7 linked regions of the Homo sapiens genome follow. The protein of the gene in region 1 purifies or fractionates together with the protein of each later gene. This does not show direct contact. Each region holds a gene or a part of one and is shown in the gene's direction. Other genes may lie near its edges.

Evidence for each region.
Region 2: the proteins of SLC45A3 (region 1) and PRRC2C purify together in Homo sapiens (affinity purification with mass spectrometry; one large-scale study listed by BioGRID and IntAct). This does not show direct contact.
Region 3: the proteins of SLC45A3 (region 1) and SRSF4 purify together in Homo sapiens (affinity purification with mass spectrometry; one large-scale study listed by BioGRID and IntAct). This does not show direct contact.
Region 4: the proteins of SLC45A3 (region 1) and DRG1 purify together in Homo sapiens (affinity purification with mass spectrometry; one large-scale study listed by BioGRID and IntAct). This does not show direct contact.
Region 5: the proteins of SLC45A3 (region 1) and DNAJC8 purify together in Homo sapiens (affinity purification with mass spectrometry; one large-scale study listed by BioGRID and IntAct). This does not show direct contact.
Region 6: the proteins of SLC45A3 (region 1) and RDX purify together in Homo sapiens (affinity purification with mass spectrometry; one large-scale study listed by BioGRID and IntAct). This does not show direct contact.
Region 7: the proteins of SLC45A3 (region 1) and WDR62 purify together in Homo sapiens (affinity purification with mass spectrometry; one large-scale study listed by BioGRID and IntAct). This does not show direct contact.

What each region holds. Positions count from the first base shown.
Region 1 is NC_000001.11:205,677,710-205,681,964, reverse strand, and holds the start of SLC45A3 (solute carrier family 45 member 3), read left to right. Parts: upstream 1-1,455; 5' UTR 1,456-1,571; exon of another isoform or gene 1,572-1,595; intron 1,596-4,255. UniProt on the Homo sapiens protein: Proton-associated sucrose transporter. May be able to transport also glucose and fructose.
Region 2 is NC_000001.11:171,530,530-171,534,029, forward strand, and holds part of PRRC2C (protein PRRC2C), read left to right. Parts: intron 1-1,813; coding exon 1,814-2,432; intron 2,433-3,500. UniProt on the Homo sapiens protein: Required for efficient formation of stress granules.
Region 3 is NC_000001.11:29,147,243-29,150,900, reverse strand, and holds the end of SRSF4 (serine/arginine-rich splicing factor 4), read left to right. Parts: intron 1-708; coding exon 709-798; intron 799-1,674; coding exon 1,675-2,491; 3' UTR 2,492-3,158; downstream 3,159-3,658. UniProt on the Homo sapiens protein: Plays a role in alternative splice site selection during pre-mRNA splicing. Represses the splicing of MAPT/Tau exon 10.
Region 4 is NC_000022.11:31,416,604-31,420,103, forward strand, and holds part of DRG1 (developmentally-regulated GTP-binding protein 1), read left to right. Parts: intron 1-3,500. UniProt on the Homo sapiens protein: Catalyzes the conversion of GTP to GDP through hydrolysis of the gamma-phosphate bond in GTP. Appears to have an intrinsic GTPase activity that is stimulated by ZC3H15/DFRP1 binding likely by increasing the affinity for the potassium ions.
Region 5 is NC_000001.11:28,202,030-28,205,529, reverse strand, and holds part of DNAJC8 (dnaJ homolog subfamily C member 8), read left to right. Parts: intron 1-180; coding exon 181-272; intron 273-1,707; coding exon 1,708-1,783; intron 1,784-3,500. UniProt on the Homo sapiens protein: Suppresses polyglutamine (polyQ) aggregation of ATXN3 in neuronal cells.
Region 6 is NC_000011.10:110,262,115-110,265,614, reverse strand, and holds part of RDX (radixin), read left to right. Parts: intron 1-740; coding exon 741-836; intron 837-1,380; coding exon 1,381-1,655; intron 1,656-3,500. UniProt on the Homo sapiens protein: Probably plays a crucial role in the binding of the barbed end of actin filaments to the plasma membrane.
Region 7 is NC_000019.10:36,089,397-36,092,896, forward strand, and holds part of WDR62 (WD repeat-containing protein 62), read left to right. Parts: intron 1-1,048; coding exon 1,049-1,124; intron 1,125-1,803; coding exon 1,804-1,915; intron 1,916-2,005; coding exon 2,006-2,069; intron 2,070-3,292; coding exon 3,293-3,415; intron 3,416-3,500. UniProt on the Homo sapiens protein: Required for cerebral cortical development. Plays a role in neuronal proliferation and migration.

The sequences.
Region 1 (4,255 bases):
GCTCTCCTTCCTCATCCCCCTGTCATAAGGCATAAAGCACAAGGGCCCCTGGAAAGAAGTGGTGGGAGGCAGGAGGAAGAGGGGGGCTCTTACTTGTCTGTGGTGCGACAACTCTCTCATGTTCCCAGTGTTCTTTCCCAAGCCTGCAAAATACCACCGTCCACTCTCTCCTGGCTCTGTAATTTTCCAGCTGACCTGAAATTTCCCCTGACTCCTGACCTCTTTCCTGGAGGAGAGGGGACACCAGCTCAGAGACCCTGGACTCCACCCTAGTCTCTCTGCTTGCCACGAGAGGGTATGCCAAAGACTTTGGAAAGCCATCTCCAGGAGGGTCCCCAGGTAGAGGTGTGTCTGCTCCAGGGAGGCAACGCTGAGACAGTTTTCAAGTTAAACTTGTTTAGTGACTCAGAAGGTAGATTCTTGATTTTTCTCTTCTCAACTCTCTCTGGCACCTGCTCTCTGTTCCCCACTACCACCAGGGCGCCACTATTTCCTCTCCCTTCTCTATCTCCCTTTCTTCTCTGCCTCCTTCTACCTCTCAGCTGGAAGGTGCCCTTAGAAATCATTTGGCTCACCCCCTCTTACAGAGGCCCAGAACATGGAAGGGACTTGGCCCACGTTATACGGCTGTTGACACAGGGCCAGCATTGGAACCCAGTGCCCCAGTGCCTGGTTGGCTAAGGCCAACCAGGTCTTCCCCTTCGAAGGCATCTTCCTGGGACTTTGTAGTATTCAAGTCAACAATCCAACTAAATTGGATTTCTCTCCACCCAATAAAACTCCATGGAGGAAAAAAAGACAAAACTGCCCCCCAACCCCCAACCCCAGGGCCAGCCTGGGACTCCATCAAAGACATTCTGGAACAGGTATCTGTTCGGACCTTGCTCAACAGCTGACAAAGAGAACATTTCATTGGCAATTTATCATCCATTCTTCCCCGTACACACTCTTAAGAAGAAAAAAAATTGGAATTTGGTTTTCAGCGCAGAAAGAGGGATTGAGTTAGCTCTGTCTGCGTCGGAGAATAGCAAAGAGCAGAAGGGTAATTCGGAGAGAATGTGACATCTCCTTTGAAGGGATGGTCCTGGACAGGTAGGGAGCAGCTCTGCCTGGAGATCGGGTGGCCAGAATGGCACGCCTGGGTAATGGTCGCAGCAGACTGGCTCCGAGTAGGGGAGGGGAGGTGCCCCGCGAAGCCGGGTAGCTTTCACCTAAATGTTTGGTGGCGAGCGACAGAGGGGGCGGTGCCCTGCCCTAGGTAATGATAGGGCAGTCTGGGAGCCACGCGGGGGCTGCCCGTCGCGGCGCGGCTACAAAGCCAGCTTCGAGACCTCCCGCTTTCTTCCCCTGGGTACCAGCCCCACCCCTCTATCCCCCCTCGCAGCACCCCCCACCTCCGTCCCGCCTCGCCCCGCCCCCCTCCTGGCAGTCCCAGCGCGCATGCTCTCTCCCCCCGCGGAGTAACCTGGAGATTTAAAAGCCGCCGGCTGGCGCGCGTGGGGGGCAAGGAAGGGGGGGCGGAACCAGCCTGCACGCGCTGGCTCCGGGTGACAGCCGCGCGCCTCGGCCAGGTAGGAGCGCGCCCCCTCCTCTCCCAGGGGTGAGGGTCCCGGCGCGGGAAAGGGAGCAGCAGTGCACGGCCGAGCTCCGCGCTGTCGCGTGTTTTGCGCCCCGCGGGATGGGGCTGCGCCGTGGCCGTCCGGGGCGCTGCGCGCCGAGCCCCGCGCGAATCCCAGAGGAGGGCGCGTCCCACACGCTCTGCCGGGGCGGGTGCCGAGTGCCCGGCGCCTGCACGGGTCCCCGCTGAGCTGTGCTTTCTTCCGCGGAGGGCGGGCAGGCAGGAGGTGCCCGCGCTGTCCCAGGCGGGGCGGCGGTGTGGGCGGGGAGCGGCCCCTCCCCGGAGCCCCGGGCCGGGCCGGACCGGGCCGGGCCGACGGCTGGCGGACCGGCCGCTGGCTCCTGTTGCAGCCTCCCGTGTCAGACTTTTCTTTGGAAAGTTGCGTTTATTTTCTTCTCTTGTCTGGGCTTCACCGGAAAGGGGCAGGATGAGTCACTGCGGCGCGCACAGTCCGGGACTTGGGGGAGCCGGGACGGGAGCCGACGGCCGCGGCGCCGCGGGGTGCTCAGGCCCAGGCCGGCTTTCTTGAGGAAGAGTGAGTTATTAAGACAGGGAAAGGGGACTGAGCCCTCTTGGACTTAGAACTGGGGCGAGCTCTGGGTACAGAGTTGGGACTGGACCGTGTGTGTGTGTGTGTGTGTGTGTGTGTGTGTGTGTGTGTTACTGTGTCCCCTTTTCAGCCTCAGTTTCCCCCTCTGTGGGGAGAGAAAGGCCGCTGTTTTCTCCTCGCCTCCCAGGTCTCAGGTGGGGAAGGACAGAGTTCTGCAAACGGCAAACAGGTGTGATGTGGTGGTACCTAGGCATCCCGTGCAGCTTCTCAGAGCTCTGGGCCTAGGCAGGCTTGCTAGAAAAGCCCCAGGGACCTGCATGCTTTCTCCCTAGTGCGGGTCAGGCCTTCCTGTAGTCTTCCGCTCCCCCCAGGCACTGCAGTCCTGTGAGTTGCTCTTGCCCTTGACCTCTGAATCAGCCTCCATCTTCCTGACAGACACTCTTGACCTGCTCAGCTTTTCCCCACTCCAGGGCGTGTTCCCTATGCTTCCTCTTTTTCCAAGGGGCCAGAGTTGGGGGTAGGGAGGGGTTTGGCATGGTGGGTACCTGGTGAGGACTCGCCCTTCAGCTGTTACACAGACCCGGTCCCGGTGGAGCAGGGACTAAGAATAGCCCAGCTGCTGTCTTGCTGCCCTGGAGTCTGCAGCCGGGCATTGCCAGTTGACCAGGGCCCGCAGTGACCCTTGCTGGGGTCCTGGAACCTTTGCTCAGGGGTGGGGTTGAGGTCCTAGGGGCTTCGGACTACCTTTCCTGAGGCACTTAGCAGATCTCCTTTCAGAGCAGAGACCGCCTTGGTGTAGACTCACCTGCCCGAGGCCTGGGAAACAGGCTGGCCTATTGGGGTGGGAGTGGGAGGGCCCAGGAGGCCCAGGCTAGACGGGAAGCCTGAGGAAACCCATAGAGCAGCATATTGTAGGGGATAAGTGGGACGCAATTTGAGGTCGCAGGCCATTCTGTTGGATCAGTCCCATTCCCTCATTCCTCCCTTATCTCCTCCCACCAGGCCTGTCGTGGAGCCAGGACTCTGTTGTTCTGAAAGTGCTCAGAAAATGCAGCTTGAGTCAGCAGAATGAGTTTGAAGATAAAAATACAGCTGTGGATGAATGTACAGCTGTGGACAGACAGGCCCCAATTTAGTGGGTGTGTGTTAGGGGGAGTTTTCCTATGTATTCATGGAGTGTGTGGTGAACTTCCCCATCCCTCCTGGCTCCCTGAATAACGTTGAAGGAGGAGGAGGAGTAGACAGTGATCCCTGGTGGTCTCCTGAGCCCATTCCAGGCCACTGGGTGGTGGAGGGATAGTGGAGGCCTCTCTCCAGCTCTCCCCTTACCCAGACTGGAGCTCTCAGCCTGGGCAGGGCTGGTCTGAAGATTCAAAGTAAAGTTAACTTGAAGACTTTAAGTACTATCATCTGGACGTCACAGCCTGATAAGTCAACATGGATAAAAACCCAGACTGTCAGAAAGATAGTTTCTTTTTTTAGACGAAGTTTCACTCTTGTTGCCCAGGCTGGAGTGCAATGTCACGATCTCAGCTCACTGCAGCCTCCGCCTCCTGGGTTCAAGTGATTCTCCTCCCTCAGCCTCCCAAGTAGCTGGGATTACAGGCACCCACCACCATGCCTGGCTAATTTTTGTATTTTTAGTAGATACAGGGTTTTACCATGTTGGCCAGGCTTGTCTTGAACTCCTGACCTCAGGTGATCCACCCGCCTCAGCCTCCCAAAGTGCTGGGATTACAGGTGTGAGCCACCGCACCCGGCCAGAAAGAAAGTTTCTATATTGGCTGCTTCACTAGGTGAGCTCCACCAGCTTGGCAAGTTACATAACCTCGTCCAAGCCTCAGTATCCCTGGCTGCAAAATGGGAATGATAATACTTACTGTATAGCTTTGTTAAGTAGATTATAACAGACATAAAATTTATAAACATATAATTACGTTATATATAGTCTAAAAATTATAGCTTTATTAAATATTGTATATAGAATACTAAACTGTGTGTCTGACACATAAGTGCTCAATAAATGTTAGTACCAACTATATATTGTATCGATCATTTGGGACTGAATGGACAGCAGTGCCTAGCCT
Region 2 (3,500 bases), about 34 Mb from region 1:
GCCACCGTGTCTAGCCTGGGCCGTATTTTTATTTTTTTTTTAATATCTTACAACTCAATAATACGTAGTTAAACAAAAAGACTTGAACATTTGTTTCTCAAAAGAAAATGTAAGAATGGCCAGTATGCACATGAAAAGATATTCAGTGTCTTTAGTTATTAGGGAAATACAAGTTAAAACCACTGAGATTTTACTGCACTGCCAGAATTAAAGACTGATGACACCATGTGTTGGCAAGGATGTATAGAGCAGCTGGCACCCTTATACATTGGAAAACCTTATAACCACTTTGGAAAACAGTTTGGCAGTTTCTTGTAAATGAAATATCTATTTACCATATGACACAGGATTTTCACTTGTAGCTGTTTATCCAACAGCCAGGAAAACATACATTTACACAAAGACTTACGCATGAATGTTCATAGCTGTTTTATTCATAGTTTAAAAACTGGAAGCAACCCACGTGTCTATCATACATGAAACAACGTGCCCACAATGGAATACTATCCAGCAGTAAAATGGAGCAAACTACTTATACATAAAATAACCTCAATGCCATTATACTTAGCAAAAGAAGCTAGCACAAAAGAGAATATAATTTTATACATGTATATAAAATTCTAGGACAAACAGAACTATACAAGGTTAGGGTTGGGGTGCTTGGGGCCACAGGGGGAGGCAGAGGAGTGATGGAAATGTTGTGTCTGCGTTGGAGCAGTGGTTACACAGGTGTATCATTTGTCCAAACTCATCAAACTATACACTTAAAATATGTGCAGCACAGCACATTTTATGTAAATTTTACTTTTATGAAGTGAGTTGTGTAAATTAGGCACTAATATATTTGGTTTTTCAGCTTATCTCTGAGCTGTGGATGAAGAAACTCAGCACAAGAGAGATGAAGTAATTTGCATATGATGGCACTATTAGTAAATGGTAGTCTGCATTCATTTAAAAAGATAGTCAAGTGTTTTCGTTGTGTCATTGTTTAATCTTTTTATAAGCATTCCAGCTGGGTTACATATGGCTCTTAAGATTTCTTCACCCTAGTAGCTTTTAAAATCAATATGTTAAAAACATTTTTTTAATTACTTTTATTGTTTTTGCATAGTTGCAAGCAGTGATTTTAAAACCTGTCATTGTTTTATAACACATTAATGAAAATTTAGTCATTGAAACTTGGATGTTTCAGATGATCCTCCGATTCTCCACTCCGGGTTCTAGATACGCTTTTCTGGATCTTTCAGTCTAAAGATAGAACTTTTCTTCACCCAGACTAATTTGTAGGAATTTCTTCTCCTTTGGGGTATCATTACAGCACTGACTCTGTCTTTTTCACTTTGCTTCTTTGGCTCTGTGCTTTTTACCTGTAGCTGTACCTTAATTTTCTCAGGGCTCACATGCCATCATTTTGGATATTTAATACCTTCATTTCTCTCCCTTAGACATTCCAACTCTGGCAGCTGCTTCTAAAGTATCCATGCTAAATTTCCTTTGTCTCTAAATTTAGATTTTGAGATTCACTGTTGTGCTTCTAGTTTTATTCAGCAAATACTGAATGAGCAACAACGTCTGGCACAATAATAGGTACATACTCAGTAAACATTGGACCGCTGGATTAATTATTCTGGTCTTAGTTTGGTGAATTATCTAGATGTAATATATTTCCCATCTTATGTGTTTTCATTTTAATGTGTATGTTCATCAGAGAAATTTCTGATATTTTTGTGGGGTTTTTCCTTCTCCATGCCTGATACCCAGTGTTAGTCAGAAATAGAGTTGTCATAACTCATCTGATACCTTAATGTTTCAGCATCCACCTCCAGATCGACAGGCAGTACCTGGAAGACCAGGCCCCTTTCCCTCCAAGCAGCAAGTAGCTGATGAAGATGAAATATGGAAGCAAAGACGAAGACAACAATCAGAAATTTCTGCAGCAGTAGAACGTGCTCGTAAACGGCGTGAAGAGGAAGAGCGAAGAATGGAAGAACAAAGGAAGGCAGCTTGTGCGGAGAAACTGAAACGATTGGATGAGAAGCTTGGCATCCTGGAAAAACAACCATCTCCAGAGGAAATTAGGGAAAGGGAGCGAGAAAAAGAACGGGAGCGTGAGAAAGAACTTGAAAAAGAACAAGAACAGGAGCGAGAGAAGGAGAGGGAAAAAGACAGAGAGAGACAGCAGGAAAAGGAGAAAGAGCTGGAGAAGGAGCAGGAAAAACAAAGAGAAATGGAGAAAGAAAGAAAGCAAGAAAAAGAAAAAGAACTAGAACGGCAGAAAGAAAAGGAAAAAGAACTACAAAAGATGAAAGAACAAGAAAAGGAATGTGAGCTGGAGAAGGAAAGGGAAAAATTAGAGGAGAAAATTGAACCCAGAGAACCTAATTTAGAGCCCATGGTAGAAAAACAAGAAAGTGAAAACAGCTGTAATAAAGGTTTGATAGTATTCTTCATTCTCTTTTAAAAACTTTACAAAGAGCTTTATGTTGGTTACAGTTTGGGGTTTGTATATTTTAAATATATGTAATCAATATAAAAGTGATTGTTTTATGATAGCATTTGCAGTACAAAATATGGGCTAGAGCCGTGTTTTCTAATTCTGTATATGAACAGACGTCTCTGAAGTGTTTCTCAGTTATTAGATGAGCTTCATTTCTGTTTTATCTGCAGAATTGTATTGGCTTCATAGTCACATATACTGATTCTCCCCCTGCTTTTTTCTGACTCCAAGACATTTAACTAAACAAAATCTCATTTGTTCACATGCATTAATACCTCTAAAACTGAACTGGCATAGAGCTTAATGAGTATGTTGGATTATCATAATTAAATGACTGCACCTAGTTCATAATTTCAGGTTTGCTGTTTAATCAGTTTAAACATGCAAGCTTCCATGGTGTAGTTGATATGCTATTAAACTGTAATTTCCTGGAGTAATTATACTTTAAAATAAAATTCTTTTTCTAGATCTAATCAACTTTTTTGTTCTTCTCCGAGTTGGCTTGTAGACTGATTAATGGCATTCAAATATAGTATAAAGCCTTGGCAAAGTTAAAGTTCAGGGTTTTCGTTTTTTGTTTGTTGTTGTTGTGGTGGTGGTGGTTGTTGTTGTTTTTGAGACAGAGTCTCTCTCTGTCTCCAGGCTGGAGTGCAGTGGCGGAATCTCAGCTCACTGCAAACTCCACCTCCCAGGTTCAAGTGATTCTCCTGCCCCAGCCTCCCAAGTAGCTGGGGCTACAGGCGCGTGCCACCGCACCCAGCTAATTTTTGTATTTTTAGTAGAGACGGGGTTTCACTATGTTGGCTAGCATAGCCTCAATCTCTTGACCTCGTGATCTGCCTGCCTCGGCCTCCCAAAGTACTGGGATTGTAGACGTGAGCCACCGCGCCCAGCCTAAAGTTTAGTTTTAATGAACGACTTGAATTAAAATAGAAATGCAGTTTTATTTCAGTGTATTTTCTGATGTGGAAATATTGTAAGTTTTCTAACCTGACGTCTCATG
Region 3 (3,658 bases), about 180 Mb from region 1:
AATGGTGGCTTGCCCAGAGAGGCAGCAGCAGAGGTAGAAAGACCGAAGATCAGGAGGCATGATCGTGGGTGTGTAAGGGGATAGGGGAAAGACGGGGGAGTCAAGGATGGCTGTGATTTCTGTTACGAGGAACCATATGAATAACAGTGGCATCAGTGCACATAAGGAGCCCAGCAAAAGGAGCCGGCATCGGGGACAGTTAGAATTTCAGGAGCTGCTAAGAGGTTCAGGTGAACCATCCAGATGGAAGGTTTGCAGGTGACTTCATCTGTGGACCTAGAACCCAAGAGAGAGTTTGTGCCTGGACACAGCCAGTGCTGTACATATTGAAAATCTTGGCCGGGTACGGTGGCTCATGCCTGTAATCCTGGCATTTTGGGAAGTCGAGGCAGGTGGATCACCTGAGGTCAGGAGTTCGAAACCAGCCTGACCAACATGGAGAAACCCCGTCTCTACTAAAAATACAAAATTAGCCAGGCGTGGTAGCACATGCCTGTAATCCCAGATACTTGGGAGGCTGAGGCAGGAGAATCGCTTGAACTCAGGAGGTGGAGGTTGTGGTGAGCCGAGATCGCGCCATTGCACTCCAGCCTGGGCAACAAGAGTGAAACTCCATCTAAAATATATATATATAATATATATAGTCTTGATTGATGCTCATCAGCAGCCTCTTGTCAGCAAGTATTAAAAAATATTTTCTCCCCCTAGGTCTCGCTCTCGAAGCAGACATTCCCGTAAGAGCAGAAGCCGAAGTGGCAGCAGCAAAAGCAGTCATTCTAAGAGTAGATCTCGGTCCAGGTATGTCTTCCATGTTATAAGTAGAGGTGGTCAGCAGGGAATGCCTGTACCCTGTCTCACTTTTTTTTCTTTTTTTTTTCAAAGAGACACTCTGTCACCCAAGCTGGAGTCCAGTGGTACAGTCATGGCTCACTGCAGCCTCACCTCACTGGGCTCAAGCAAGCTTCCACCTCAGCCTCCCAAGTAGCTGGGACTACAGGCACATACTACCACACCCAGCTAATTTTTTAATTTTTTTTAGAGACAGGGTCTCACTATGTTGCCCAGGCTAATCTTAAACTCATGACCTCAAATAGTCCTCCCAGACTACTGCGATTACAGACATGAGCCACTGTGCCCAGCCTCACTTGGATTTCAATCATGTGACCAGTCTTCCTGCTTTTCCAGCTTCTTTTTCTTTTTTTTTTTTTTTTTCCCCCCTCAAGACAGAGTCTCGCTCTGTCGCCCAATCTGGAGTGCAGTGGCGCGATCTCGGCTCACTGCAACCTCTGCCTCACGGGTTCAAGCGATTCTCCTGCCTCAGCCTCCTGAGTAGCTCGGTTTACAGGCGTGTGCCAGCATGCCTGGCTAATTTTTGGTATTTTTAGTAGAGACGGGGCTTCACCATGTTGGCCAGGCTGGCTCTTGAACTCCTGACCTCGCGATCCGCCTGCCTTGGCCTCTCAAAGTGCTGGGATTATGGGCATGAGCCGCCGCACCTGGCCAGTTTTTCCAGCTTCTGATTGGCATTGTGAGGGTTCAGAAAACAATCCTCAGCCAGTGCCAGCCATGCTTTATATTGGGGGGTGTAACTCCACATGTATGCCCTTTGGTCTTTTTATCTCCTGATTAGCATGAAGTCACATGTGACACAAACAGTATCCCATGTCTCCTCAGGTCGGGCTCCCGCTCCCGGAGCAAGAGCCGGAGCCGGAGCCAGAGTCGGAGCCGGAGCAAGAAAGAGAAAAGCAGGAGCCCCAGCAAGGAAAAGAGCCGCAGCCGCAGCCATAGCGCTGGCAAGAGCCGCAGCAAGAGCAAAGACCAAGCTGAAGAGAAGATCCAAAACAATGACAATGTCGGGAAACCCAAGAGCCGGAGTCCTAGCAGGCATAAAAGTAAGAGCAAAAGTCGGAGCAGGAGTCAGGAGAGGAGAGTGGAGGAGGAGAAGCGAGGGAGTGTGAGCAGGGGCAGGAGCCAGGAGAAGAGCCTCCGCCAGAGTCGGAGCCGGAGCAGGAGCAAAGGGGGCAGCAGGAGCCGGAGCAGGAGCCGCAGCAAGAGCAAGGACAAGAGGAAGGGCAGGAAGAGAAGCAGAGAGGAGAGCCGCAGTCGCAGTCGCAGCCGCAGCAAGAGTGAGAGGAGCAGAAAGCGAGGCAGCAAGCGAGACAGCAAGGCGGGCAGCAGCAAGAAGAAGAAGAAGGAAGACACTGACCGCTCCCAGTCCAGATCTCCATCCCGCTCCGTGTCAAAGGAGCGGGAACATGCCAAGTCTGAATCCAGCCAGAGGGAAGGTCGAGGAGAGAGTGAGAATGCTGGCACCAATCAGGAGACCCGGTCCAGGTCGAGATCCAATTCCAAATCGAAACCAAACCTTCCATCAGAATCACGCTCCAGATCAAAGTCAGCTTCAAAAACCCGATCTCGGTCCAAGTCTAGATCCAGGTCTGCTTCCAGATCGCCCTCCCGATCTAGATCTAGGTCCCACTCAAGGTCCTAACTGGCTATGGCCACAGCTGGAACTACCCGAGAAGTCTTTTGTACATGTTTGGTAGCCGTAGCACAAGTGATTGGAGTAGAACATGTCACTGCTGTACATTTTTAACTCCCCTAATGGTGTGTCTATAATTGTTAAATCTAAGTGCTTCCTCTCAGTAAAGCCTCCTGGCACCAGGCCTTCCTGCTCGACTGAAAAAAATTTTCTCTTTGAAAATCCCCTTTTACTCATGGCCCACAGTAGAATATCCAAAACGCCTTGGCTTTCAGGCCTGGCCTTTCCTACAGGGAGCTCAGTAACCTGGACGGCTCTAAGGCTGGAATGACCACATAGGTAGGTATGGTGAGTTCAACCATTTTTGCTCTTGAATTGATGCCCTTCGATGTATGCCATTTAGTGAAAGTGCTAAGTCTTAAGTTTCCTACCACTTTGGTTTCATATTTTTGGACTTAACAAAGTTGTGAATAGCACAGTCGAGGAAAATTGATACCTGCAGTAACCCATAGGAAATAAACTGTAGAGTTCCATATTCTGGTATTGTGATTATATTGTTTTATATTAAAAAAGAAAAGAAAAGAATTTTTTTTAATTTTATTTTTCCCCGTCTTGCAAAGTATAGTGACCCCTGTTTCCATTAAATTTGAATAAAGACTATTTTTGCTTGACAAAATTTCATGGTGTTTGAATTGAAGTTGTACTTTCTGATATATCTTGATATGTCTTTTCTTAGCATAAAAAGTTCATGTGTAGGCCGGGCACGGTGGCTCACGCCCGTAATCCCAACAGTTTGTGAGGCTTAGGCAGACGGATCACAATGTCAGGAGTTCGAGACCAGCCTGACCAACATGGTGAAACCCCGTCTCTACTGAAAATACAAAAATTAGCCAGGCATGGTGGTACACGCCAGTAATCCCAGCTACTCAGGAGAATGAGGCAGGAGAATCGCTTGAACCCCGAGGGGTGGAGGTTACAGTGAGCTGAGATCACGCCACTGTACTCCAGCCTGGGCGACAGAGCGAGACTCCGTCTCAAAAAAAAAAAAAAAAAAAGTTCATGTGTAATGACTGTTTTGTTCCTTGGGATCACCCATCTTAGGGAACCAACACGTTCCTAAAGGATTTTTCTCACCAACAGAATAAAGGCAGGTTTCCGAGGAATTTATCATCCTTT
Region 4 (3,500 bases), on another chromosome or scaffold:
AATTAGCCAGGCATGGTGGCAGGTACCTGTAATTCCATAGTCTGTAATTCCAGCACTTTGGGAGGCTGAAGCAGGTGCATCACAAGATGAAGAGATCGAGACCATCCTGGCCAACATGGTGAAACCGCGTGTCTATTAAAAATATAAAAATTAGCTGGGCATGGTGGCGTGTGCCTATAGTCCCAGCTACTCAGAAGGCTGAGGCAGGAGAATCGCTTGAATCCAGGCGGCAGAGGTTGTAGTGAGCGGAAATTGCACCATTGCACTCCACCCTGGTGACAGCAAGATTCTGTCTCAAAAAAAAAAAAAAAAATAGCTGGATGTGGTGGTATGCTTCTGTAGTCCCAGCTGTTCGGGAGGCTGAGGTAGGAGGTTCTCTTGAGCCCAGGAGGTCAATCTGCAGTGAGCCATGATCATGCCACTGCACTGCAGCCTGGGCAGCACACAGACACCCTGTCTCAAAAAAAAAAATAATAATAATAATAAGGCCGGGCATGGTGGCTCACACCTGTAATTCCAGCACTTTGGGAGGCCGAGGCGGGTGGATCACCAGGTCAGGAGATCGAGACCAACCTGGCCAAGGTGGTGAAACCCCGTCTCTGCTAAAAATACAAAAATTAGCTGGGTGTGGTGGTGCGCGCCTGTAGTCCCAAGCTGCTCGGGAGGCTGAGGCAGGAGAATCGCTTAAACCTGGGAGGCAGAGGTTGCAGTGAGCCGAGATTGCACCACTGCACTCCAGCCTGGCGACAGAGCAAGACTCTGTGTCAAAAAATAATAATAATAAAAATAAAATCATGGCTGCTTGGTGGCTCATGCCTGTAATTGCAGCACTCTGGGAGGCTGAGGGGGGTGGATCACTTGAGATCAGGAGTTTGAGACCAGTCTGGCTATCATGGTGAAACCCTGTCTGTACTAAAAATACAAAAAGTAGCTGGGCATGGTGATGCATGCCTGTAGTCCCAGCTACTTGGGAGGCTGAGGCAGGAGAATAGCTTGAACCCAGGAGGCGGAGGTTGCAGTGAGCCGAGATCACGCCATTGCACTCCAGCCTGCATGACAGAGCAAGACTCCATCTCAAAAAAATAAAATAAATAAAATAAAATCAGGCTGGGCATGGTGGTACATGCATGTAATCCCAGCACTTTAGGAGGCTGAGGCGAGCGGATCACCTGAGGTTGAAAGTTTGAGACCAGCCTGACTAACATGGAGAAACCCTGTCTCTATTAAAAATGCAAAATTAGCTAGGAGTGGTGGTCCATGCCTGTAATCCCAGCTACTTGGGAGGCTGAGTCAGGAGAATTGCTTGAACCCAGGAGGCAGAGGTTGTGAGCTGAGGTCGCACCAATGCACTCCAGCCTGGGCAACAAGAGTGAAACTCCATCTCAAAAAAAAAAAAAAAGTCTACCACTGAGGCTGGGCATGGTGGCTCACGCCTGTAATCCCAACACTTTGGGAGGCCGAGGTGGGCAGATCATGAGGTCAGGAGTTCAAGACCAGCCTGAACAACATGGTGAAATGCTGTCTCTACTGCATCTCAAAAAAAGAATGAGGGGTCAGGGTCAGGTGCAATGGCTCATACCTGTAATCCCAGCACTTTGGGAGGCTGAGGCAGGAGGATCACTTGAGGCCAGGAGTTCGAGACCAACCTGGGCAACATTGCAAGACCCTGTCTCTACAAAAATAAAAATTAAAAAAAAGAAAAAAATAGCCATGTGACATGGCACACATGTGTAGTCCCGGATATTCAAGGAGACTGAGGCAGGATGATCAGTTGAGCCCAGGAGGTGGAGGTTATAATGAGCTATGATCATGCGACTGCACTCCAGCCTGAGTGACAAAGCGAGACCCTGTCTCTTCAAAAAAGAGAATTTTAAAAAATGAGGAACTAGAAAGTTGATGGAAGCAGAATATTTTTTTTTTTCTGAGATGGCGCTCTGTTGCCCAGGCTGGCTGGAGTGCAGTGGCATGATCTCGGCTCACTGCAACCTCTGCCTCCCTGGTTCAAGTGATTCTCGTGCCTCAGCCTCCTGAGTAGCTGGGATTACAGGTGTCCACTACCATGGCCAGCTAATTATTTATTTATTTATTTATTTTTGTAGATGGATTCTCGCTCTGTTGCCCAGGCTGGAGTGCAGTGGCGCAATCTCAGCTCACTGCAATCTCTGCCTCCCGGGTTTAAGAGATTCTCCTGCCTCAGCCTCCCAAGTAGCTGGGACTACAGGCATGTGCCACCACATCCGGCTAATTTTTTGAATTTTTAGTAGAGATGGGGTTTTACCATGTTGGCCGGGATGGTCTCAATCAGCTCACCTTGTGATCCTCCTGCCTCAGCGTCCCGAACTGCTGGGATTACAGGCGTGAGCCACTGCGCCGGCCAGTTTTTCTATTTTTAGCAGAGACAGGGTTTCACCATGTTGACCAGGCTGGTCTCAAGCTCCTGACCTCAGGTGATCTTCTCGCTTCAGCCTCCCAAAGTGCTGGGATTATAGGTATGAGCTCCCGTGCCCAGCTGGAAGCAGGATTTTTGACAAATGAATTTTAATATAGAAAAAGGCCAGATACTGTGACTCATGCCTGCAGTCTCGGCAGTTTGGGAGACCAAGGCAGGAGGATTGCTTGAGGCCAGGAGTTAAAGGCTACAGTGAGCTATGATCATGCCACTGCACTCCAGTCTAGGCAATAGAGCGAGACTCTGTCTCTGTCAATATAAATATATATTAATAAAAATAAGATATGCAGGCACAAAAGACTACTTTTTTTTTTTTTTATACAGATTGAATCTTACTTTGTTGCACAGGCTGGTCTCAAACTCCTGGCTCCAAGCAATCCTTCTGCCTCAACCTCCCAAAGTGCTAGGATTACAGGCATGAGCCACTGTGCTAGGCCAAAATAATATATTTTATATGATTCCATTTATATGAAATTCTAAAACGTGCAAACTATGGTGGCAGAAAGCAGATCAGTGGTTGGCTGGCAATAGTGGGGAAGATTGAAAGGAGGCACAAAGGAATGCTGTAGGTGATGGAAATATTCCATGTCTTGATTGGTTTGGTGGTTACACAGGTATATACATTTGTTATTGAACTGTGTGCTTTAACATGGATACAATTAAAAAAAAATTGTACCTCAATAAATTTGGTTAAAAATTTGCTAACCAAGGGTGGGCGCAGTGGCTCATGCCTGTAATCCTAGCACTTTGGGAGGCTGAGGTGGGCGGATTGCCTGAGCTCAGGAGTTCGAGACCAGCCCAGGCAACATGGTGAGGAAACCTCGTCTCTACTAAAATACAATTAGCCAGGCATGGTGGCATGTGCCTGTAGTCCCAGCTACTGGGGTGGCTGAGGGAGGAGAATCGCTTGAACCCGGGAGGCAGAGGTTGCAGTAAGCCAAGATTGTGCCACTGCACTCCAGCCTGGGCAACAGAAAATGTGTCAACTCTTGGGCAAATAGGTGCTGATTTCATGGCATACAAAGCAAATTGACTTCTGGTATAAATCTTC
Region 5 (3,500 bases), about 180 Mb from region 1:
CTCAAACGATTCTCCTGCCTTTGGCCTTCCAAAGTGTTGGAATTACAGATGTGAGCCACGGTGCACAGCCTGTGCCAGGTTTTAATCTGCTTTATCTTGGACTCCAGGTGAAAGTACATGGTTCAAGTTGCTGGTAAAAATATTTACTCTGATTTTCTTTTGTTCTTGATTTTCCTGTAGTTCAAACAAGCTGTATATAAACAGACAATGAAACTCTTTGCAGAGCTGGAAATTAAAAGGAAAGAGAGAGAAGCCAAAGAGATGCATGAAAGGTACATATCAGTATATTCATTTAAACCATATTTAAATACCTAGATTAACTAACATTGGTCTTTGGTGATTTTCCTAATGAGGGAATTATATAGTATACCATTTAAGAGACTATAAAAATAGTTACCTAAAAACAGTCAAGCTTTTGAATCACCAGGGTAAGTAGTTTTTTTCTTTGACTTTTGAGAATTATTGAATAGGTCTGTCCTTAGGGAGTGTATTTTTTATTTATTTTTTTGAGACACAGTCTTGCTCTGTAGCCAGGCTGGAATGCAGTGGTGCGATCTTGGCTCACTGCAACCTCCACCTCCCAGGTTCTAGCAGTTCCCCTGCCTCAGCCTCCTGAGTAGCTGGGACTACAGGTGTACACCACCATGCCCGGCTAATTTTTTGTATTTTAGTAGAGACAGGGTTTCACCATGTTGGCCAGGATGGTCTCGATCTCCTGACCTCGTGATCTGCCTGCCTTGCCCTCCCAAAGTGTTAGGATTACAGGCATGAGCCACTGCATGCTGCCAGGGAGTTTATTTATAATCAAGAGCCTTGTGTGTGTTCTTCCTGATGTCCTGGAGTGAAATAAGCAGTTATTAAGGCCATTGTTACTGAAGCCAGAACCTTTTGTGGGGCTAGTGGCTACAGCTTTGGTGAGTGTATAGTACTGTAGTGTCATCAGTAACAAAATGTTTAATGTTCTAAAATATGATTTCTCTTGAACATCAGAAATGTTAGAATTTCGCTTTTGTTGCCCAGGCTGGAGTGCAATGGCATGATCTTGGCTCACTGCAACCTCCACCTCCCCAGGTTCAGGTGATTCTCCTGCCTGGCTAATTTTTGCATTTTTAGTAGAGACGGGGTTTCACCATGTTGGTCAGGCTGGTCTCGAACTCCTGACCTCACATGATCCACCTGCCCCAGCCTCCCAAAGTGCTGGCGTTACAGGCATGAGCCGCTACATCCGGCCGAGTTTTGTTTCTGTATGTATTTTATATTGTTGCTTGGTAGGTACCAGTAACTAAAATTTGCTAGTTGAGGTTGTGTGAAATATCTTTGTTTTCGGATAGGGTTTTGTCCAGAGATCTTAAGAACTTTGGCTTTATAATGGTCATTCTGCTGAAATAAGGTGGCCTGTGTTCTCGACATAGCTTTGTCACTGAAAGAGCCCAAAACCTCAGATTGCTCTTGGCTGGGCTTTAGTTACTTTATCTGTGTAACAAGGATATTTATGTCTTTCCCCACAGCCATGCCCAAGTCTGATCTGCGTGTTTTAGAATGAGACATTCATGAAAATGCTATGAGCCCTTTCCAGACAGCCATCTTTGTAGACTTCTAGGGAATTGATTTACTATATATGCTTGCTTCTGTGGGGAGATGCCACCTTGTATGGTTAATTCAGTCTGTAAGTATCATATAAATACTATGATCTGGTTTTCCTCCTAGGAAACGACAAAGGGAAGAAGAGATTGAAGCTCAAGAAAAAGCCAAACGGGAAAGAGAGTGGCAGAAAAACTTTGAGGTAAATTTCCAAGGTGGCCAGGGATTCTAATTCCAGAATAAGGCAGCTTGGTTCCTGTGGCGCTCCCAGGACTGAGTGGGGCAGTCAGAGGGGAGTGGGATATGTGGGGAAGAGTGGGAGAGGTGAAGAATGAGGCTGGGCCTGCCTCAGCCTCCTGTAAGCTCTGTAGCCTTGGCAAGGACGATGAGGATCCCTGAATGGCTTTTTTAAAATTTATTTTTAAAAATTATTGTTTAATTTCTTTTTACAGCACACTAACAGTTTCACCCTGAATGGTTTTTTAGATTGTAGTAGGCACAGCTGCCCAGTGGGCTCAAGAAAAATGGATTGCACTTTTAATTTAGGGGGTAAGCATAGAGTATTGTGCTGCTTAGAGATCTGTTAGTAGATGCTGAAGTTCTTGTGCCCACAGTGTCCTACCTGCAGAGAGAGTTAGAACCTTTGAACTTGACTCTTCTTTGACACCCTGGTTATATGCTTCAGGTGGTTGGACAGAAGGATTGTGGCAACATTCGGTCTTTTCTTCTATAGGGTTTAGGACTCATGGTTAGGGGCTGGCTAATCAGAGTTGATGACTTTGTTTCTGTTGCACTTCATGTATGGAAAGAGAAAAAATGATAATGAGGTAGAGGTCCTAGTGGCCACCCCTACACAACTCGCTAGGCATTGTACTGGCTTTGGAGCAGCCATCCAAGTTTTGGGGGGCAGCAGAAAGGTGCAGTGGAAAGAGTAGCTGTACTGCTAGCTAGCTGTATGGCTTTTAGAAAATCATTTAACCTTTTTGAGCCTCAGTGTTATTTGTGAAGCACTGGTAGCAGTACACACCATAGTCGGCTTTTGGTGACAATTAGAAATACCATATGCTGGCCGGGCGTGGTGGCTCAAGCCTGTAATCCCAGCACTTTGGGAGGCCAAGGCGGGCAGATCATGAGGTCAGGAGATTGAGACCATCCTGGCTAACATGGTGAAACCCTGTCTCTACTAAAAAAATACAAAAAATTAGCCAGGTGTGGTGGCTGGCACCTGTAGTCTCAGCTACTCAGGAGGCTGAGGCAGGAGAACGGTGTGAACCCAGGAGGTGGAGCTTGCAGTGAGCCAAGATTGTGCCACTGCACTCCAGCCTGGGTGACAGAGCCGTCTCAAAAAAAAAAAAAAAAAGAAAAAAAAAGGCCGGGTGAGGTGGCTCATGCCTGTAATCCCAGCACTTTGGGAGGCCACGGCAGGCGGATCATGAGGTCAGGAGATCGAAACCATCCTGGCTAACACGGTGAAACCCCGTCTCTACTAAAAATACAAAAAATTAGCCGGGCGTGGTGGCGGGCCCCTTTAGTCCCAGCTATTCAGGAGGCTGAGGCAGGAGAATGATGTGAACCCGGGAGGCAGAGGTTGTAGTGAGCCGAGATCGCACCACTGCACTCCAGCCTGGGCAACAGAGCGAGACTGCATCTCACAAAAGACAACAACAATGACAACAAAAAAAACCATGTTAAACGTCTAGCCTCGAGGTCCCCAACAAATGGGGCCTCAGTGTTGTGATGATTATTACTGATTTCGTCCTCCTCTTGCAACCTGCAGCTCATCCTGCGTTCTAGGGGTGCTATGACACTTTCTTGGGCCCTTGGGAGTGGGAAGAAAGCTCTATTCTACTTTTTTTTTGAGACGGAGTTTTGCCCTTGTTGCTCAGGCTGGAGTGCGATGGCGTGATCTTGGCTCACTG
Region 6 (3,500 bases), on another chromosome or scaffold:
TTTTCTTATCACCAAAATGATACCATTTGCCCTAAATATACCAATAGGGTACTTGTGGGGGTAAATAGAAATTGGAACGTATGATTATGAAAACTATATATATATATATATATATTTTCAAGACTCTTGTTATTGTTGAGGTCATGATAGATAAGGAAAAGGAGGTATGAAAAAGTGGATCAAGTAAGAGGATTGAAGTGACACTACAAAATTGAGGATTAGAGGCCAGGTGCAGTGGCTTACGCCTATAATCCCAAGACTTTGGAAGGCCGAGGCAGGCAGATCACCTGAGGTCAGGAGTTTGAGACCAACCTGGCCAACATGGTGAAACCCCATCTCTACTAAAAATACAAAAAATTAGCTAGGCGTGGTAGTGCATACCTGTAATCACAGCTACTTTGGAGGCTGAGGCAGGAGAATCACTTGAATGGAGACGGAAGTTGCGGTGAGCCAAGATTGTGCCATTGCACCCCAGCCTGGGTGACAAGAACAAAAAAAAAAAAAACAAAAAAAAAAACTTCTTTTCAAAAAAAAAAAAAGAAAAATTGAGTATAGAAAACTTGAATTTGAGTTTTCAAAAATGTTCCTTTAATATCTTAAATTTAGGGAAAGCCTTTTCTATGGCAAAGGAATATACGTATACTTACATAGTTTTGTTCTCCTTTTGAAGTGTAGTATCATCTAGACACAATGTGTATGTTGGACTGAAATTGTGTTTTTTTGTTGTTGTTGTGTTTTAGGTGGTGAAAACAGTTGGTTTGCGTGAGGTCTGGTTTTTTGGGCTGCAGTATGTAGACAGCAAAGGTTATTCTACATGGCTTAAACTAAATAAAAAGGTAAAATATGTACGATAACATTAAACTAATAATTATGTTAAGTTGAAGTTATGAATTTGTGCTGGAAAAGCTAAGTCTGACTGATTGCAAGCTTCCTTTTGTAGTTATCTGTTAATCATTATGAGGTACCATGTTTTTTTAAATTCAATCAGGCACCATCAGCTTATCATCTCAAAAAAAAAAAAAAGAAATGCTTACTTTTCCTATTTGAAAACTTAGCCTATAACAAATATTAAAGCAGATATTACAAATGGCATACTAAGTACTTCAATTTTGATGTAAATACCTGTAGGATAAGCTTCTCAAGAATATGAAAAAAAGTTTTCAATTTGGTTATTAGAATCTGAGTTATAGGTCACATTCAAGAGCATAGAATCTTTTACCACATATATTTGTTTACAGATTTAGACTATTACACACTAAAATCTTCATAGATTTAGAATCTATTTCACTTCATTTTCTTCCAAAAAGAATTTGATGTGACTAGGTCTAATTATTGTAAACTTAAGATTTTTGTTGATTATACTTGAAATTATTTTTCCAGGTAACACAGCAGGATGTTAAAAAAGAGAATCCTTTACAGTTCAAGTTTAGAGCTAAATTCTTTCCTGAAGATGTTTCTGAGGAATTAATTCAAGAAATAACCCAGAGACTCTTCTTCTTGCAAGTTAAAGAAGCCATCTTAAATGATGAGATATATTGCCCGCCAGAAACTGCAGTTCTTTTGGCTTCCTATGCTGTCCAAGCCAAGTATGGAGATTACAATAAAGAGATTCATAAGCCAGGCTACCTGGCTAATGATAGACTCCTACCCCAGCGGTAAGTGAAACATGCGTTTGCATTATATTGTCTGAAAATTGTATTCTAGAAGTCTATAAATAAAACGTTTTTCAGGTTTTTTTTTTTTTTTGGAGACAGGGTCTGGACCTGTCACCCATGCTGGAGTGCAGTGGCGTGATCTCAGCCCACTGCAACCTCTGCCTCCTGGGTTCAAGCCATCCTTCCACCTCAGCCTCCTGAGTAGCTGGGTCTATAGGCACATGCCATTATGTCCGCTAATTTTTTTTTTAATGTATTTTTCATTGAGATGGGGTTTCATCATGTTGCCCAGGCTGGTCTCAAACTCCTGAGCTCAAGTGATCTGCCCGCCTCAGCCTCCCAAAGTGCTGGGATTACAGGCATGAGCCACCGCACCTGGCCTCTTTTTTTTTTTTTTCCAGATTTTAAGTTGCCAGCTGGATCATGGGGTATACTTCTAAAAATCATTACCTAGCACCTCCATAGATTTATATGCTCTGTAATTACCTAAGGTTGATCTATCTCTTCTTTCCTCATTCCCATAGGGTAAGCAATAAATGGAGGCAGTGATAATTTGGACTTGAGGAAAGGATGTGACTGTTGCTGCTTGGTACAAATTCTAACACAGGCAGGTGCTTAATAAGTGAGAGTAAGTGGCAGGCTGTGTTTTCTTCATAGAATTCTCTGACTTTTTCCCCCCCCGAGATAGAGCCTCACTCTGTCACCCAGGCTGGAGTGCAGTGGTGCAATCTCAGCTCGCTGAGATTGGAGTCTGCCTCTCAGGTTCAAGTGATTCTCCTGCCTCAGCCTCCCGAGTAGCTGGGATTACAGGCATCTGCCGCCATGCCCAGCTAATTTTTGTATTTTTAGCAGAGACAGGGTATCACTATGTTGGCCAGGCTGGTCTCGAACTCCTGACCTCAAGTGATCCTCCCACCTCGGTCTCCCAAAGTGCTGGGATTACAGGCGTGAGCCACTGCTCCTGGCTGAATTTTCTGACTTTCTGAAAAGGCTTTTTAAACTAGGTTTTCAGACTCCTAGGCTGGTGCATTGTTCTTATCTACAGTGTACTGCTGCTTCTATAATGGCTATTTTAAAATAATATGGCATAGGAAAAAATTATCAGAAGACCTAAATTTTGAGTACCGATTCCACCCTTTGCTATATATGTGACCTTAGGTACATGACCTAAAACCTCTGAGCTCAGTATCTAAATCTGCAAAGTGGGGATAATAATCCTTCTCTGGCTACCTTCTAGTTTATGATTATAATTAATGAACTATATGATTTACAGTTTTAATTGTCAAGTGTGAAACGTGTTATTTAGTAGTATTGATGGAATCTAGAAGATGGAACATCAAATATTACTTTTTAATTTTTTTTTTTTTTCTTTGAGATGGAGTCTTGCTCTGTTGCCCAGGCTGGAGTGCAGTGGCACGATCTCGGCTCACTGCAACCTCCGCCTCCCGGATTCAAGCGATTCTCCTGCCTCAGTCTCCTCCTGAGCAGCTGGGATTACAGGCACACACAACCACACCTGGCTAATTTTTGCATTTTTAGTGGAGATGGAGTTTCACCGTGTTGGTCAGGCTGGTCTCGAACTCCTGATCTCAAATGATCCACCCGCTTCGGCCTCCCAAAGTGCTGGGATTATAGGCGTGAGTCACCATGCTCAGCCAAAATTCAATTATTAAATGTCACAGTGTTCCGCCCTTTAATTTTGTAGCAATAGTAGTCACCTTGGAAAAGGATAGAATTATGTAAGTTGTTCACCAAGAGAGTCAGGAATATGAGATATCTGATAGTCTGTTTATATTCTGGTTTTGAATGTTATTCTAACCTAAGATTCTTCATCTTAGATTACTG
Region 7 (3,500 bases), on another chromosome or scaffold:
GCTGGGAAGGAATTGAGGGACCCAGCAGGTGTTCCTTCTTGGTTTTTTTTTGTTTTTGTTTTTGAGGCAGAGTCTTGCTCTGTTGCCCATGCTAGAGTGCAGTGGCACCATTTTAGCTCACTGCAACCTCCACCTCCTGGGTTCAAGTGATTCTCCTGCCTCAGCCTCCCAAGTAGCTGGAATTACAGGCGCCTGCCACCATGCCTAGCTAATTTTTTGTATTTTTAGTAGAGACGAGGTTTCGCCATGTTGGCCAGGCTGGTCTCGAACTCCTGACCTCAGGTGATATTGCCCACCTCAGCCTCCCAAAGTGCTGGGATTACAGGCGTGAGCCACCGTGCCCGGCCACCAGCAGGTATTTCTTAGAAGCTGGGCTCTCCCAAGCCTGGCCTCCAGGTCAGCAGAGGGCTTTCTTCTGGCTCTCCCTAGAGCCGGTGTGGGATGACTAAGGTGCTGATGTGGCACATAAACTCCCTCATTCACCCGTATTCCCTGAGCACCTAACTGGGCTGGATGGTGCTGGGATCATGGCAGTGGCCAGGATAGCCCCAGGCCCTCCTTCATGGAGCTCACAGTCCAGTAGAATGGACACGGCCACCTCACAGCCACAGACAGTGACAGAGTGGTCAGAGATGGGGGAGCCCAGGGGCCCTGTGGAGACACCTGACCCCACCTGCGGATCAAGCAGGACTTCCTGGAGGAAGAGACACCTTAGCCTGGGGAGGATGTGGAGGAGCGAGCCAGGGGGAGGCAGAGAGTGAGTGTGCAGAGGGCAAAGCAGTGCAAAGAGGCTCTGCACCCCTTCCCAGTTCTTTCTCATGCGGTGCCAAGCACTGAGCTTGCAGTGTGTGGGGGAGATGAACATTAACTCAGTGGATACCCCAGGACAACCTCAGCTTGAGATGGGGTTTCAGTTTCAGTCTAGGCATCAGATGGGGACAAGAGGTAGCAGGGGGCTTCCAGGGGAGGGGAGGACAGCAAGAGCCAGAGAATGAGGTGGTGGGGTAGGCGGGGCCCTGTTGGCCGCAACATGCCCCTACTTCCCCAGAGTCTACAACACTGTGAACGGGAAGCAGAAGAAGTGCTACAAGGGCTCCCAGGGTGACGAAGGGTCCTTGCTGAAGGTGAGGAGTTGGAGACCCCTGTCTGTCTGCTGCCCTGATGGGCCACCTATTGTGACGGCCCACACCTGAGACCTGTGCCCTTGGTCCTTCCTCAGTGCACCGCGCTGCCCAGCACCTTCTCAGGCCTGGTTAAACAAGGATGCTTGCGAGAGGGTGGGGAGGGTGACCCCAGCTGTGTTTCCTTTATTTACAGAGCCCTTCCCCAAGTGGGGCGTCTAAGTGGGTTCCATTTTGAGTGGCAGCAGGGTATGGTGGGAAGAATCAGAGGCATGAACTCCCCTCCTGGTTTGCCCACACCAGCCACGGGTCACTCAGGACAAGGGGGGACCTTCTCAGAGCCTCTGGTCTAGGACAGTTATGGGTTCAGGTTCTGCCTCAGGCTGACTGTGTGACCTTGGGCAAGCATCATCTCTTGAAATGCACACAGACAGCTTGTCTCATAGACTTGTTCTCTGGAGGAGTTCAGTTTGCACATGTTCAGTGCTTAGCACAGGGCCTGGCTACTGTTGTTACTGCTGCGGTGGTTGTTAATTTCTTCACGTGTCGAATGGGAGCGGGAGCTCCTGCCCTGCCAGAGTCCCATGTGCTGTGCATGCAGCACGGGGGAGGGAGGGGCCCAGGCCTCATCATAAGGAAGAAGCAGGCAGCTGGAGTGACATGTGGGTCCCTTTCCTGGCAGGTCCATGTGGACCCCTCAGGCACCTTCCTGGCCACCAGCTGCTCTGACAAAAGCATCTCAGTGATTGACTTTTACTCGGGCGAGTGCATTGCCAAGATGTTTGGCCATTCAGGTGGGTGTGCCTCTCTGCTTGGGATGCCTCCCCACCCGCCCACACCCTCTGACTCCGAAGGCAAGTGCAGCCTCTCTGCTTTGTTTGCAGAAATTATTACCAGCATGAAGTTCACCTATGACTGTCATCACTTGATCACAGTATCTGGAGACAGGTGGGACATGGACCTTTGGGAGAGTTGTGGCTCAGATACCATGAGCACTGCACTCAGCCTGCCTGTGTAGAGAGCATTTCTAAACTGCCCAGTTTGGATTGTGGGAGTCTTGGTGTCACACCCAGCCCTGAGTTCAAATACCAGCTCTAAGCTGGGCATGATGGCTCACGCCTGTAACCCCAGCACTTTGGGACGCTGAGGCGGGTGGATCACTTGAGCTCAGGAGTTCGAGACCAGCCTGGGCAACATAGCAAAACCCTATCTCTACAAAAAATTAGCCGGGTGTGGTCATGTACACCTCTAGTCCCAGCTACTCAGGAGGGGGAAGATGGCTTGAACCTGGTAGGTAGAGGTTGCAGGGAGCACAGATCATGCCAGTGCATTCCAGCCTTGGTGACAGAGCAAGACCCCGTCTCAAAAAAAAAACAAAACACTAAAAAAACATATCCCAGCTCTGCCATTTATTTTCTTGTCACCTTGAGCAGGTTATTTCCCCTGAGCCTCAGTTTGCTCCCCTGTAAAAGACACCACCGTTTACATTTACCTTAAAAATGGTGTGATGAGGCCGGGCGCAGTGGCTCACGCCTGTGATCCCAGCACTTTGGGAGGCCTAGGTGGATGGATCATCTGAGGTCAGGAGTTCAAGACCAGCCTGGTCAACATGGAGAAACTGTGTCTCTACTAAAAATACAAAAATTAGCTGTGCGTGGTGGCAGGCGCCTGTAGTCCCAGCTACTTGGGAGGCTGAGGCATGAGAATGACCTGAACCTGGGAGGTAGAAGTTGCAGTGAGCTGAGATCGCGTCACTGCACCCTAGCCTGGGTGACAGAGCAAGACTCTCTCAAAAAAAAAAAAAAAAGAAAATTGTATGGTGAGAAATGAATGAGATGATATACATACATTCTTTAGCACATGGGTGGTACTCAAGGAAGTCCCTTTTGTCACTCCCTTTGATTTACCCCAGTTCTTCCCCACAGCCCCCTTCCTCAGGTCTTGAGGCCTCCAGAACAGGCCCTGGTTTGCTGGGATGCCCCAGACCTGGGCCCAGGGTGTGGATGTGGCAAGTCCAGCACCCCTGCACTAAGCGGATAGGGGTGTGTTTTCCAGGAGCATCTGGAGAATGGGGTCCAGGCTGTGGTGTGGGTGGCTTCAGGGTCAGCCACGGCAGCGGCTCCCATGCTTACTCTTCCTCTGCCTTGTGTGTCTCTCTTTGACCTCCGCAGCTGCGTGTTCATCTGGCACCTGGGCCCGGAGATCACCAACTGCATGAAGCAGCACTTGCTGGAGATTGACCACCGGCAGCAGCAGCAGCACACAAATGACAAGAAGCGGAGTGGCCACCCCAGGTCCTGGCAGCCCCTGCCTGTCCACCAGAGGGATGAGTCCCTGCCAGGGCCCCATGGAGTGATGCTGGGGACACAGTGGTGGCCA